Homo sapiens: one gene and its partner. Each later gene encodes a partner of the first gene's protein in a complex. Each region holds a gene or a part of one and is shown in the gene's direction. Other genes may lie near its edges.

The links.
Region 2: the proteins of RASA1 (region 1) and ARHGAP35 are in contact, whole or in part, in a crystal structure (PDB 8DGQ), measured with the Homo sapiens proteins. Residues at the interface, in NP_002881.1 of Homo sapiens: Arg188, Arg207, Ser209, Arg211, Val217, Asn228, His229, Phe230, Arg231, Ile241, Gly242, Tyr256, Leu262, Leu263, Lys264, Lys358, Ser379, Asp380, Asn381, Ser387, Gln397, Arg398, Phe399, Lys400, Met411, Gly412, Gly413, Arg414, His425, Tyr426; in NP_004482.4 of Homo sapiens: Ser1085, Asp1086, Tyr1087, Ala1088, Glu1089, Pro1090, Met1091, Asp1092, Ala1093, Val1094, Val1095, Arg1098, Glu1100, Asn1103, Ile1104, Tyr1105, Ser1106, Val1107, Pro1108, His1109.

The regions. Positions count from the first base shown.
Region 1 is NC_000005.10:87,264,030-87,270,884, forward strand, and holds the start of RASA1 (ras GTPase-activating protein 1), read left to right. Parts: upstream 1-3,853; 5' UTR 3,854-4,422; coding exon 4,423-4,961; exon of another isoform or gene 4,962-5,018; coding exon of another isoform or gene 5,019-5,026; intron 5,027-6,855. UniProt on the Homo sapiens protein: Inhibitory regulator of the Ras-cyclic AMP pathway. Stimulates the GTPase of normal but not oncogenic Ras p21; this stimulation may be further increased in the presence of NCK1.
Region 2 is NC_000019.10:46,996,991-47,004,014, forward strand, and holds part of ARHGAP35 (rho GTPase-activating protein 35), read left to right. Parts: intron 1-506; exon of another isoform or gene 507-768; intron 769-2,313; coding exon 2,314-2,419; intron 2,420-2,836; coding exon of another isoform or gene 2,837-2,942; exon of another isoform or gene 2,943-3,083; intron 3,084-3,340; coding exon 3,341-3,698; 3' UTR 3,699-7,024.

The DNA.
Region 1 (6,855 bases):
TGTGCCTGGTCAGAGTAAAATAATAGGTAAAGAAAAAGAGACTAGAAATCATGAAGGAGGAAAGGTTCTGACAAAAAATAATGAAGTATCTGCAATATAAAGACAAAATAGGAATAAAGTAAAAAAAAAAAATATATTTTTCTATTATTTTATATTTTAAGAGATATTTAGATCTAACTGTTCTAATCTTCTTTACTCATATATTGGTTTGAATGTTTTGAGAGAGCTCTGGATAATTTACCTTGTAATTTATTTTACAGCCTCAGAGATCATCACACAGTTCTTCAATTTCTCTATGGTATTTATAATTTTCATAAATCTTAGTTATTATACCACATATTGTAATCTCTGCAGAGTTATTTGCCTTTTCATCAAAGTATTTCCTTTAACCTGTATCTCCTCGATGTTATTTTCTCATAAGATCTTTGTAATAAAAAAATTTGTGCTCTGGAGGGTTTTAAGATAAAGTCAATAAATGCAGTGGGGACATTAGGGTTAGAAGTAAAGGCTTTCTTTCAAAATTATTGGGTCAATGAAACCTTTTGATACTATTTAGGTAAATTTGGAAGGCTATTTGTGTAACTCAATATGTACTAGGGCATGGAACACAATTTGGCATTCTTCAAACACAGCAGTAAGCTCTTTATTACTTCTTGGTTAGTCCTCCCATCAGAAACTATTCTTACCTATGCTCTAAGGTCCTCTAAAATTACAGTTATGTTACTGAGTTAGAATTACCTTTCCACATACTCAAGATATCAAAACTATAAAATATTTTGGAACGTAGTACATTCATATTTCTTTTTCTTTTTTTTTTTTTTGAGACAGAGTCTTGCTCTGTCACCCAGGCTGGAGTGTTAGCCAGGATTGTCTCGATCTCCTGACCTTGTGATCTGCCCGCCTCGGCCTTCCAAAGTGCTAGGATTACAGGCGTGAGCCACCGCACCCGGCCACATTCATATTTCAGTTGCCAATGAAACCAGAATGAGCCAACTTCATTTCTTAAATTTTCAGTTTCTTTTCATACACAAGTTTTTGTCCAGCACTTTTTATTATTTAGTCTTCATTAAATACTATGTTTCAAGATCCAGAGTAACTTTTCTAAAATCACAGATATAATAGCTTATTTTACTAAAGGTAAAATATATTTTGAATTTTCTTTCTTTTGTGTACTATTCTGTTTTTCAATACCTCCCTGTTTAATATCTGTGAATTTAATTAAGATAGTTTACTTCCCTTTGTTAACTGGGCAGAAAGTTAAGGTGGGTAGAAAAGAAAGGCAATGGACAAAAATTAAGTAGAAACATTAAATCCTTTTGGAAAAAATGAAAATAAAGATAGACAACGTATTTGAGATTCAGAAAGTACACAAGCAATAGTAAAGATTAGAGCCTAGATCTATCCAATAATAGGAATATATTAAATATCTGAAAATACCTCATAAAAATATGTGGCAATTTCTTTGGAGGAAAAGAACAGGGCTAACTCTAAGGCTAAACAAAAACTAGGTAAGATATTGGTATAAGGCTGATTTACAAATAGACATAGTAGTTATTTCCTACTGGTTAAGAAATTGATTTCCAAAGATGGGAGCTGATCAAATTTGGTATTTGTTAAAAGGATGAAGATCTGTTCAAAGTAGCATACTGAGGTTGCCTAGGACTGGGCTAGGCAGTAGAATAGACCACAGGTTGTATTTGCAGTACAGTTTTGTAGGTACATACACCTAAAAGTCTAGAAAACATTTAATTGAGCATTTGATAGGTGTTAGACTGCATTAAATATTGACCTTTACAAGTGCTAAAGAATTGTCAAAAAGGAGGAGGTAATTCTGCAGTAAGAGTAGTGAGCCTCACCTGGACTCCCAGGCAACATACAGAGGGTGTGTGAACATTTAGAAATCAGTGATAACCAAGAGCCGGTGATAACCTGCCAGTTCAATGTCCTGCATTCAAGGGCTGACAGTGGTGACTGGGACAGGAATGTTGGAGGATTGGGATGCTAACACACTGGAGGTTTTCAAGCACAGGCTATATTAAGATTTGTTGGGATTGTTGCACTTGGTGTTCACACAGCAGACAGTAAGTAGAGTAGGTATTTTGATAGTCTTGTCTAACTGAGGGTCTAAGTTTAAAAGAAAACTGTTCTCAGGGAGGCCACCATAAGTAGTACTTCATTATTAAGTATTATGGAACTACTTCATTCTCATTTCTAGAACAGCACAGAGCTTGGCAACTCAAAACCCGCCTATTTTACCTACCCACCTAATGAATGACATTTATTATTTCTTTCAGAACCGTTTTTAGGTATTGCATACCTCCTTCTTGATTAGTATACTATACATTAATATAGTGGTTCTCAAACTTAAGTGTGCAAACAATCACTTGGAGGGTTTGTTAAAATGGATCGCTGCATATTTTCTGATTCAGAAGGTCTGAGGTGGCATTTCTGAATTCCTAGGATGTTGCGGCCTGAATTCACTTTGAGAACTCTAGCTCCTGTGACTGGTCCATCTTCCTTCTCCCAGGTAGCACACTGCTAAGAGATATGCGTAATGGAGGCCCCAGGACTACTCCTAATCAAGTTGGATTGTTGTCATTGACTAGGTAAATAGGCCTGTGCAAACTTACAAAGGCAATGCATTGCCTGTATCTTGTCACGTCTTTTAGTGGTCTTTTCTCTTTTTCCTGGGTTTCTATCACAGCCACTTGCCATCCTGAGTGTTAGTTTGATCATCCTTAGCACAGAAAATATTGATCTCAAAGATCAATATCCAATGGTATTTAATGTGGGATCACTCCTGGGAGAATTTAACAATATTGTTAATTTCAAACCATGGGAAGCTCCCTCTACATGAATGCATAGTTTGTATACATTTTAGTGTAAAAGACAAAATAACACCCTTCTCCTTAATTGTATTAAAAATGAGTTTTCAGTTTATTGCTACTTTTGAAACGATATATAATTATAACTAGCATTCTGGGACATTCTTGACATTTGACTTGTTGAAGGTGCTTGCATTGTGGATCACGTCCTGCAGTCTTTTGCACACAAACCAGGACAAAAGTGCATTGATTAGTGTTTTCTGTGGCACCTCCTCCTCTTCATCAGTATCCAACAGACTTATAATGGCATAGGTAAGTATATGAGACAGTTGATAAAGAAAAACGTATGCAAATACTGGTAGAAATCTTACTTCATAACCACTATTTCTACTCAAATTCTTCACCCTTCTCATATGGTGCCCTTTATTTCGTTTTGGAGTTTCAGAATCTATTTTAACTGTGTGTGTGTGAGATAGTCATAGTGATTTATAGCATGCAACGAAAAAGAAAACATTAATAGTACTGCCCCGATCTTCAAAGCTACCTGACCCCTGCCCGGTTTCTGCGCTGCTGGTTAAGGCTGTTTTTTCCACTGGTCAGGAAGTACGGAACTAGTTTCTGGGCATTTTCCTTTCCCTTTCCCCCTCCTTCCTCTCCACCGCCTCCTGGTCCCCCTCTGGTCTCTCCGGCTTTAACAGCGCCAAGCACCCGCGTGCTCAGGTACCCTTCCCTCTTCTCCCGCCCATCAAACAAAGCCCCGGGAGACAGGCGCGCGCCGCCGGCCACGCCAACAGGAGATGCGGCCGCGCCGCCACACGCTTGGAACCGGAGGAGGACAGCAAGCGCGACCACGCACCGCGCGTCCCCGCCGCTTCCTTCCCTCTGGACTCTTCCTTTTCCTCCCGGCCCGGCCCCCCGCCCCCGCTCCGGGAACGCGCCTGCGCACAAGCTGCCCTCTCCCTTCTCCGCCCTTCCTTCCCTCCGTCCCTCCTCCCCTGCCCCGCCTTCCTTTCTCTCTCTCCCGTTTCACTCACTGAGAGCTCCAGGTAGTGAGCAGTTCAGTCGATTTCCTCGTTACCCCGCCCCCCTTTCTCTTGCCCCCCCACCCCTCTCATCTGCCTGGTGGAGGATGAAGCGGCTGCAGTGGCCCCAGCCTCAGCAGCGGCACCGGCGGTGGCTGCGGTGTGGGTGGCCGGAACTGGGGTGGTGAAGAAGCGGTGGTGGCGGCTGAAGGAGCGGTAGCAGCCTCAGCCTCTTTCCCTGTGCTTCCTTTCCTCTTTAGTGCAGCGAGGAAGTTTTCGCTTCTGTACATGTGTTTGTGTGCGTGAGTGTGGGTGTGTGCGGTGAGGTTTGGGTGGCGTTTGTGCAGGCGTTGGGTTTTTTGCCCACTTGGCTTCCCGTAACCCAGGCAGCTGGGGAGCCTGGGCTGTGGCCCTAGGAGGGGGCGCGGCGGCGGGCTCTCTCCTTTTGTTGTTGTTTCCTCAGCCTGGGGAGCTGAAGGGGAGACGCGTCTGGGTGGGGCTGCTCGGAGCCCGGGCCTGGTGGCCCCTGGGGCTCCCGGGCGGGCAGGGTAGGGCAGAGTAGAGCGGGCTTCAACATGATGGCGGCCGAGGCCGGCAGTGAGGAGGGCGGCCCGGTAACAGCCGGAGCTGGAGGAGGCGGCGCGGCAGCGGGCTCCAGTGCCTATCCCGCAGTGTGTCGGGTGAAGATACCCGCGGCCCTGCCTGTGGCAGCCGCCCCCTATCCTGGGCTGGTGGAGACCGGAGTGGCTGGAACTCTGGGTGGCGGAGCCGCTTTGGGGTCAGAGTTCCTAGGAGCCGGGTCTGTGGCAGGGGCACTGGGGGGAGCTGGACTGACAGGGGGAGGTACTGCTGCTGGCGTAGCTGGTGCTGCTGCTGGCGTGGCCGGTGCTGCTGTTGCTGGACCTAGTGGAGACATGGCTCTCACCAAACTGCCCACTTCGTTGCTTGCTGAGACTCTCGGGCCAGGCGGCGGTTTTCCCCCTCTGCCCCCTCCCCCTTACCTGCCCCCTTTGGGGGCGGGCCTCGGGACAGTGGACGAAGGTGACTCTCTGGATGGACCAGAATACGAGGAGGAAGAGGTGGCCATACCGTTGACCGCTCCTCCAACTAACCAGTAAGTTAAGACTGCTGTTCAGGAATTTGGGAAGCTGGCTCCAGAAAAGAAGTGGAAATGAAGGGGTAAATCATACTTTGTCCTTTTCATCTGTGGTTTGTTAGGAAAAGTTTTTGAAGTTTCAGGTTTCTTGGGTAGGAATTTAATCTGATCACTTATCTTCCTTACAGGCATACTACCTGGCGTCTTCCTACATTTATTGCTCCTCTGGGAAAGTGTAAAGTCTTTAAGATGGAAAGCATGAGAAAATGTGTATCTAATGAGAACCGGATATAGTTCTGTCCCTTCCAAGTTGAGGTGGTGTCCCAGAATTTAGTCAAACTGCGGCTACCAAGGCAGTCATAGTGTATATTAACTTGTGTGTGTTACTTGATAAAGCTAGATGATTAGTGAGAAGCTTTGAATACAGGTGTTTAAACGAGTACTATAGTAATAATTTGAAAAATGTATTGGTTAGAATGTTTTTATTTCAGTGCACAGCCCAGCTTCTGATTAGAGAAAGCATAGTGATGCAGAAGAGTCTTTGGGTCACTTAATGAGAACTTGGGTCAGAGAGAAAGGAAAGGAATCCTGTGTATTATAGGTGTGATTAAGAGCCTATATTCCAACAATGTATCTTCTTCCATAGGCTTGCCACTTAATATTAACGCACTGCTTTTATAGTGGAGACTTTGGAAGTACAACAGTGAGGCAAAACAAAATCAATAGAGCTTCCCTTAAACATTTTTTGTTGGTGGCCAGTATAGTATTCTATTTAAAAATTAAGTTTTACAGTCTGTAAAATATACAGGACAATGACTTTTTTAAAATGTAAGTTAATACCTCCTCCTCACTTGTCTTAATTGAACTTAGGTGTTTATTCTTAAAGGTGGACCTTGATGAAAATGTTGAGATGGGAAGTGTTATTAGGCAAAACTTGTTATAGATTTCTCATATAACCCTTAATTGACCCTTAGAATTTTAACAACCGGCCGGGCGCAGTGGCTCACACCTGTAATCCCAGCACTTTGAGAGGCTGAGGTGGGCGGATCACCTGAGGTCAGGAGTTCGAGACCAACCTGGCCAACCTGGTGAAACCCTGTCTCTACTAAAAATACAAAAATAAGCCGGACGCGGTGGCACGCGCCTATAATCCTAGCTACTTGGGAGGCTGAGGCAGAAGAATCGCTTGAACCCAGGAGGCGGAGGTTGCAGTGAGCCGAGATCGTGCCGCTGCACTCCAGCCTGGGTGACAGAGCGAGACTCTGTCTCAAAAAAAAAAAAAAAAGAATTTTGACAACTTTGTTGAATATCAAGAAAAAAAGATTTGGTTCATATGTTGACAGTCACTCTGGACAATTCAGAGGTTTTTTTTTTTTTCCTTCCCCCCACCCCAGAGATGGAGTCTCGCCTTGTTGCCCAGGCTGGAGTGCAGTGGCGTGATCTCGGCTCACTGCAACCTCCGCCTCCCGGGTTCAAGAGATTCTCCTGCTTCAGCCTCTCTAGTAGCTGGGATTACAGGCGCATGCCACCATGTCTGGCTAATTTTTGTATTTTTAATAGAGACGAAATTTCGCCATATGGCCAAACTGATGTCGAACTCCTGACCTCAGGTGATCCGCCGGCCTCAGCCTCCCAAAGTGGTGGGATTACAGCCGTAAGCCACGGTGCCCGGCCTTTTTTTTTTTTTTTTTTTTTTTTTTTTTTTTTTTTTGGATAAGCTTCTTTGGAGCATTTAGAAAGTTCTGAAACTAATTAGGAAAAGATTCTGTTACCCTAATCCATTTTTGACTTAAGGCTACATCTTTTGATACTTAAAGGGGAAAAGTAAAGTTAGTCATATTTATGCCAGCCAACGGGATGTAGTATTCCACTTTTTATATTCCTCAATAAAGGATTCAAGTCTTTCGTCAGA
Region 2 (7,024 bases), on another chromosome or scaffold:
CTAGTAAAAATACAAAAATTAGCAGGCGTGGTGGTGGGCACCTGTAATCCCAGCTACTTGGGAGGCTGAGGCAGGAGAATCGCTTAAACCTGGGAGGCAGAGGTTGCAGTGAGCTGAGATCACGCCACTGCACTCCAGCCTGGGCAACAGAGCGAGACTCCATTTCAAAAAAAGAAAAAAAGAAAGTGCCCTTGAGGTGGAACCCTTAAAATAAACCTTGGATTCAGAGAGATGAAGCTGCTCATAGCCCAATAACTAGCTCCCAGGACTTTTTTAGTCATTTCTGATAGACAGATGTTACCAAGACACTGCTCTTATCAAGTCACACTCTCAAGGCCACAGATTTGCCAGGTTTCATTCCTCCTCATTAGGCTGCCCGGGAGAGCTCCTGGAGCTCTGTCCCTTCCAGCCCTGCGGCCTCCCTTCCCCACAGGCTCCTGCGAGTAGACTGGCTCCCAGGTGCCCTTATTTTGTGTCCAGCTGTGAACTCTTCATTTAATTGCCAGGTGTCACCGAATGAAGGAGGCACTGTCCACAGCCCCTTTTACAGACAAGGAGACTCACCCTAAGGTGTCACTTGCCCAAGGTGACACGGTTGACGCGAGAGGCCGGATTTGTACCAGGGCCATCTGAGTCAGGATCTGGACTCCAGACCACCACAGGACCTTCCTCCCTGCTCAGCGTGCCCGTCATTGGCATTCTGTCTGCTCTTCCAAGTCTCACTCTCACCAGGGTGCTTGTGCAACTCCCCCAACTCTGACCCTCTGGGTACGTCACCTGCTGCAAGGTGACTAGGAAGCTATGGGTTTCCCAAAGAATGCTTGCTTCAGGGCTGGGCGCGGTGACTCACGCCTGTAATCCCAGCACTTTGGGAGGCTCAGGTGGGTGGATCACGAGGTCAGGAGATCGAGACCATCCTAGCTAACACGGTGAAACCCCGTCTCTACTAAAAATACGAAAAAATTAGCCGGCGTGGTGGCGGGCACCTGTAATCCCAGCTACTTGGGAGGCTGAGGCAGGAGAATGGTGTGAACTCAGGAGGCGGAGCTTGCAGTGAGCCGACATCGCACCACTGCACTCCAGCCTGGGTGACAGAGTGAGACTCCGTCTCAAAAAAAAAAAGAAAAAAGAAAGAAAAGAATACTTGGTTCAGGGAGTCCGCACCCCTCCCGGATTCATCAGCAGAATGGCACACATATGTCTCCGGCCGAGACGGTCTGGCACCATCATCTATCCCAAAGGAGCCCGAGCCCCCGGGCCCATTAGCAATCATCTGCGCTTTAACAGGCCTCTCTTCACCACCCCCACAGCCGCCAGCTGTGAGGTCGCTGCCATCTCCTTCGTGAGACCCTCCTGTGGTTCTTCTGAGCCCTGGAGTCCACGAAGGAAACATGGGGGCATCTTTCCCTGCACAGAGAAATCTGTCTTAGCCAGCTGGGCTCCAGGTGGGCTCTGGGACGTTTGTGCCTCACCAGCCCCGATGCCCTTCCCAGTCAAGGTGGGCCACACCCACTCGGGGATGGCAAGCCCAGTGGCCACAGCTCAGGCCCCACAGCCAGTCCCAGCTCTGCAACTTCTAAACTCAGATACTTCATCCTCAAAATGGGGTGACGAGTTCCTGCCTCACACGATTGTGGGGACTCATGGAACTGGGCCTGGCGCGGGTTACAAGCTGCATTCCAGGCAGTTGTTTTCCCTCCCCCAGGACATTAGGATTCCATGATAGGCAAAGTGTGGGCGTTGGGGGAAAAGGGGGTGCGTAGTTCCTTTGGTGAAGTGCATAAGAATTCCCCCACTGTTTCCATCAGCCCCTCCAACGGGGATGTGTGGACGGTCCCTGTGTCTCTAGGAAAAGGACAGAGCCTTGGTCTCATGACCGACTGACTCCCTCCCTCGAAGGCCTGTTGGCGTGGGTGGGTGGCAGCGGCCGCCCGTCTCCATCTGGTCAGGAAGCAAGCAGGCTTTCTGCGTAGGGATGCCTGTCTCCAGGGGCAACCGGATGAGCAAAGAATGGTGTTCTTTATGGCGGAGTGTCTCCAGATTGTTCTGTCTTGGGTGGTGGGGGCCAGGAAGCCCCAGGCACACAGTGCCGCCCTTCAGCGGGGGCCTGGGACACAGAGGTGGGCCAGACCCCTGGGCCAGTGCCACTGCCAGGTGTGCCAGCCTTGGGCACAGGCTTTGGGGGAAAGAGTGGGGTTAGTGTCATCCAAAAGCCCTGGGCTGTCCTCAGAGAAGGCCCATCACAGAGCACGCCCTGGGGTGGCCACCAGCCTCGGCCATGAAAGGCAAGGCTTTGGTTTTCTCTCTCCTCAGAAATCAACGACCGGGAGCAGAAGTTGCATGCCCTTAAGGAGGTATTAAAGAAATTTCCAAAGGAAAACCACGAAGTCTTCAAGTATGTCATCTCTCACCTAAACAAGTAAGTCGCAGGGCCTTCTGGTTGGTTTTTCCTCCTGAAAATTGACAGCCAGGGTCAGTGTGTCGCAGAACAAGGCTCTGTCCACAAGCCAGTAGAAGCCTCAGGCCCTGGCCTGGAAGGGGTGCTGGCTGGCCTCCCATGGTGCCCGCTGGTCTCGGTGCCCAGAGCCTCTGCCTCTCGCCCATCCTCAGGCCTCCCTCCTGCTCCTGTCTGAGGGCAGCCCACGTGGCCTCAAACCTGCCTAACACCAGATAGGGCACTTAGCTCCAGCGGGCATGGGGCCTCTTGTAGGCCTGTGTCCCAAAGCTGGCAGAGAGAGAAGATCTTCTGGTTGGTACTGATGCTCCAGAAATCTTCTCCTGAATCAAAAACACCTCAGAGTCCCTGAAAGTCCTCTCACAGCATTCACGTTCCCAGCTGGGGAGAACCGGGACACTGCACCTCGAGAGATGTGCTGCAGGAGACAGCCAGCCTCCGGCATGGAGCACAGCCGCAGGCGGGAGGCCGTATGGTTGTTCCCTGAAGTTCCATGTGTGTGGAGGAGATCTGCTGGCCGAGTGGCCTCTGATGGCGCTCTGGCTTAGGACACTCAGCCTCCCTCCCTCGTCACAGCCGGAGCACCGCCACTGCTTTGGCTGGCTGCAGAGTGAGTCCCTGAGGTGGTCCATCCACCCCCAGGGGTTTGCGGGGCTCCAGGCAGCCTTTCCGAGGTTGGCCATGTAGAGGCACTGGGCTGGAGGGGAGAGGACACTGAGGGCGCAGCCTCCCAGGCAGGGCAGGGTACAGAGAGCTGCGCATGGCCTTTTCTGCTCCACCTGAGGGAAGAAAGGTGGGCTCAGCCTGGGTGCTGAAGACCATGAGCGCCCAGGGCCAGGTGGGGCCCTGCACAGTTCTGACCATTGAGTTTGGTGTCGCCCGCAGGGTCAGCCACAACAACAAGGTGAATCTCATGACCAGCGAGAACCTCTCCATCTGCTTCTGGCCCACCTTGATGAGACCTGATTTCAGCACTATGGACGCCCTCACAGCCACGCGCACCTACCAGACAATCATTGAACTCTTTATCCAGCAGTGCCCCTTCTTCTTCTACAATCGGCCCATCACCGAGCCCCCCGGCGCCAGGCCCAGCTCCCCCTCTGCCGTGGCTTCCACCGTCCCCTTCCTCACTTCCACGCCTGTCACAAGTCAGCCGTCGCCCCCACAGTCGCCTCCACCCACCCCCCAGTCCCCAATGCAGCCACTGCTTCCCTCCCAGCTTCAAGCCGAACACACGCTGTGAGCCACCAAGACCTGGGGCGACAGGAGAACCGGTCCTCTCTCTGACGGGGTGGCATTTGGCCTTGAACAAAACCAAGTCCACTGGGGACAGAGGCAGGGGCAAGTGGCTCTCCCCATTACCTTCTCAAGACCTCAGTGGGAGCACCAGCCAATGGTACCATCGGCTGGGCTGCCAGGTACCCTGGGCCTGGCGCTGCAGACCTGAGCTGGCTTGGACCCATTTGAGGACTGAACTAGGCAGGCAATGGCTCCAGTGCCCTCCCTCTGTTCCCTGGACCACCACCCCACGTAGCTGCTCACACCAGCCTCCGGGTGCCTCCCTCTGCTTGTACAGAGCCCATGGTCGGGACAGTGCCCTGGCCTTTGCCGGGGAGGAGGATGCTCTGAGATTCAGGGTGGGGCTGGCAACCCCTGAAGAGAACACTTCCTGTTGGTCTGTCTCTTCCCACCTTCCATCTGCACACACCCCCAAGGTAAGGGTACAGCCCGGCTGGCGGCCTCCTTGGGAACGTGTAGGCCACGGCTCTGCCACCACTAGGTACCTGCTGAGGGCGCTGGCTCTGCAGATCAGAACAACGGAGGATAGCTTTGTGCCTGGACCCAGAGAGTGTGGGACTCCCCGCTTCATCCCCACCGTCCCACTCCACAGCCTTCCCGAAACATTCCCTGGCAAACAAAGGAACACTAGGAGAAAAAATGGAAAAACCCTTCCAGTAATTAAAAAGGAAGAAACCACAGAAAGAAAACTACAGACCTCAAGATTCCACTCTGTGCCCGCCTCTGCCGGGAGGGAGGGAGGCACACAGGTGGAGCTGACCCTCGTCTTTGTGGCAGCAAAACCAGGATGCCTGGAGCTGTGGCCTGAGGGCCTGCTGGGGTCCCACTCACCCACTTAGGTCTAGTCGCTAGATCCCCCGTTTTCCCAAGAAGAGGGTTCGAGCCCTTGGTGGGGACAGCTGGGGAGATGGCAGTGCAGGCTGGAACCTGGGCTGCCCCAGAACACAGTCCATTACGATAGAAACACTAATTGAGCATGTGCGTGGGGTGGGGGTGTGTGTGCACATGTGAGTGTGAGTGTGTGTGGGCGCTTGGTGGGGGGTTGGGGACAGCTGGAAGGTGCCAGGTGCACTTGGGGTTGGGGTTGGTGTGTTGGGTGTTGAAGTGGAATCGTTTCATCCCAGCCATGGAGGCCACCAGCAGGAGTGTTCATGGGGATGTGGGCGAGGTGGGGCACTTTGAAGGAATGGCGGTCTGCTGGTGCCCTCGAAGGGGCATCCTTCCTGGTCTTCGCTGACCCAGAGGCGCTGTGCCTGCATATCATCCACCACCACCCTAGCCCAGCCTTCCCACTGCCCCAGGAAAAGCTCTTCTCCTGGCCACCTCTGCCCCCCAGCACCTCAAACTTGCATGGCTGGGCTGTGGCCTCTGCGGCCAGGAAGCCTGACACTAGGCACCCCCCAGGCGAGAGCTAGTGGGGTGCAGAGGGCCCCATGCCAGACAGCCCTTGGGGCTCGTTGCACTTTAAGAAATAGGATCTGTGGTGTATTCCAGGGGGCCTGATGGACACCTTTCCCGGGCGTCTGCAGCTGCCCTGCCCGTGCCCGCCTGCAGTGGTTGGAGACGGGAGTGGCCCTTCGGCTCCCGAGCTCCCTCTGGGGACGGCTGGCTCACTGTCTCCAGTTCTCAATGGCCAACGAAGGTGCTTGGAAACACCTAACCTTGCAAGTTTTACCGCCTTTTGAGGAACACAAATCGGAGAACAAACCCAGGGTTCAGGCGTGTTTTCTGTGAATGTTGGATGATGAATTTTTGTCTCTTCTGGTGGAGCTGTGCCTGGCCCTGTAGGCCCAGGGTTGGCTGGAAGGTGACATCTGTGTTTCGTTTTAGCTGAGGTTGGCAGAAACGTTCCCAAACTCCCCCAGCCCTGGACCCCAGCAGATGAGGAAACGGCCCCATTTACTGACCCCGCCCCCTTTTCGAGGTTATGCTCACCTGGTCAGCTCCTCACGTAATTGGGGGTGGAGGGAAAGCATGGTGGTGCCCTGGGCCGTCCCTGTGTGAACGCAGGCAAAAGCAGCCCAGTCCCCCTCACTGCTTGAGCTAACACTGCCACCTCTTTTGTGTGAGCACAAAAGCCACGTCCCAAGCCACCTGGCCCGATTCCACAGATGTATGTGCGGCCAGTGACTTCCCCAGGAGTGTGGAGGGGGTGGTGAGGAGGAGCACCTGGGCTCTCTACCCCTCTCCTCACAGAAGTACCTGAAACTAGGTCTGGGGCACTCCCAATGCAGCGCCTTGTCAGCCAAGGTGGGCAGGCAGGGACTGTGGCAGCTTATGTCCAAAGGGAGCCCCCATGCACAGGAAGCCACAGGGTTCCTCTTGTTTCCCCCGCTAACTTCAGCCTCTCATCTGCTGCTCCGGGCTGAGGGACTAGAGGACATCTCGGTCGTTTGAGGGGCATGGCCAGTCGTGGCAGGCCGGCCTTCAGCGTCCGGTCAGGGAAGCGTGCAGCCCAAATGGGCACTTGCATGGGAGCCACAGAGGAGCGTCCCTGGGGATTGTTGGGACCATGCTGCCCCCACTCCCGCTTTTGTTGGGGCTCTAAGTTCTGGAAGGTGTGTGCACAGAGGGTGCTCATGGGACTCGCATGCAGCTCTCAGCACTGGGTGGGAGGGCGTTGGCTTGTCCAGAATGGGGACGTGGGGCAGCCACCCCTGCCCAGCGAGAGCGCAGACACCGTGTGAGGGGACAGCAGCCCTTGGTGCAAAGCCAGAGACTGATCCTGGCTCTGACGGCTGAAGAGGGAAGACCCAAGGCTGGGTGGCGTGGCTCGTGAATCCACTTAGAATTCTTGGCTTGTGTCGCATACTGGGTGTCACGGCACACATTTACTCTGCATTGTCCCCGTCTTTCCCATCGCCTAGCGTTTGGGGAGGAACAGGGAGAGAGCTTCGGGGCGTCTGTCTCCGTGCTCTCCTGCCTCCACCGCCTTGGTTTTGCTTCCTGCTGGAGGCAGGGCACCTGCTGCGACCCAGATTCTTCTGCAGGATGTGTCTGTCTTTGTCACGGTGGACAGAGGGTGACATCATAGGAGCAGCTCGCTGGCCAGAAGGGGATGGGGGCATCCCTGTGCCTCACTCAGCTCCTGCTGCTCTTAGGGAAAGGAGGCCTGGGTCAAGCCAGCATCCCCTTGGTAAAGACCCCCGCAGGCCACCAGGCATTCTGGACACGCACACACACACACACACACACACACACACACAAAACTTCACAGCAGGCCAGCTGCAGTGACTTGTCATCAAGAGTCACCTCAGCTGCGCCCCCCTC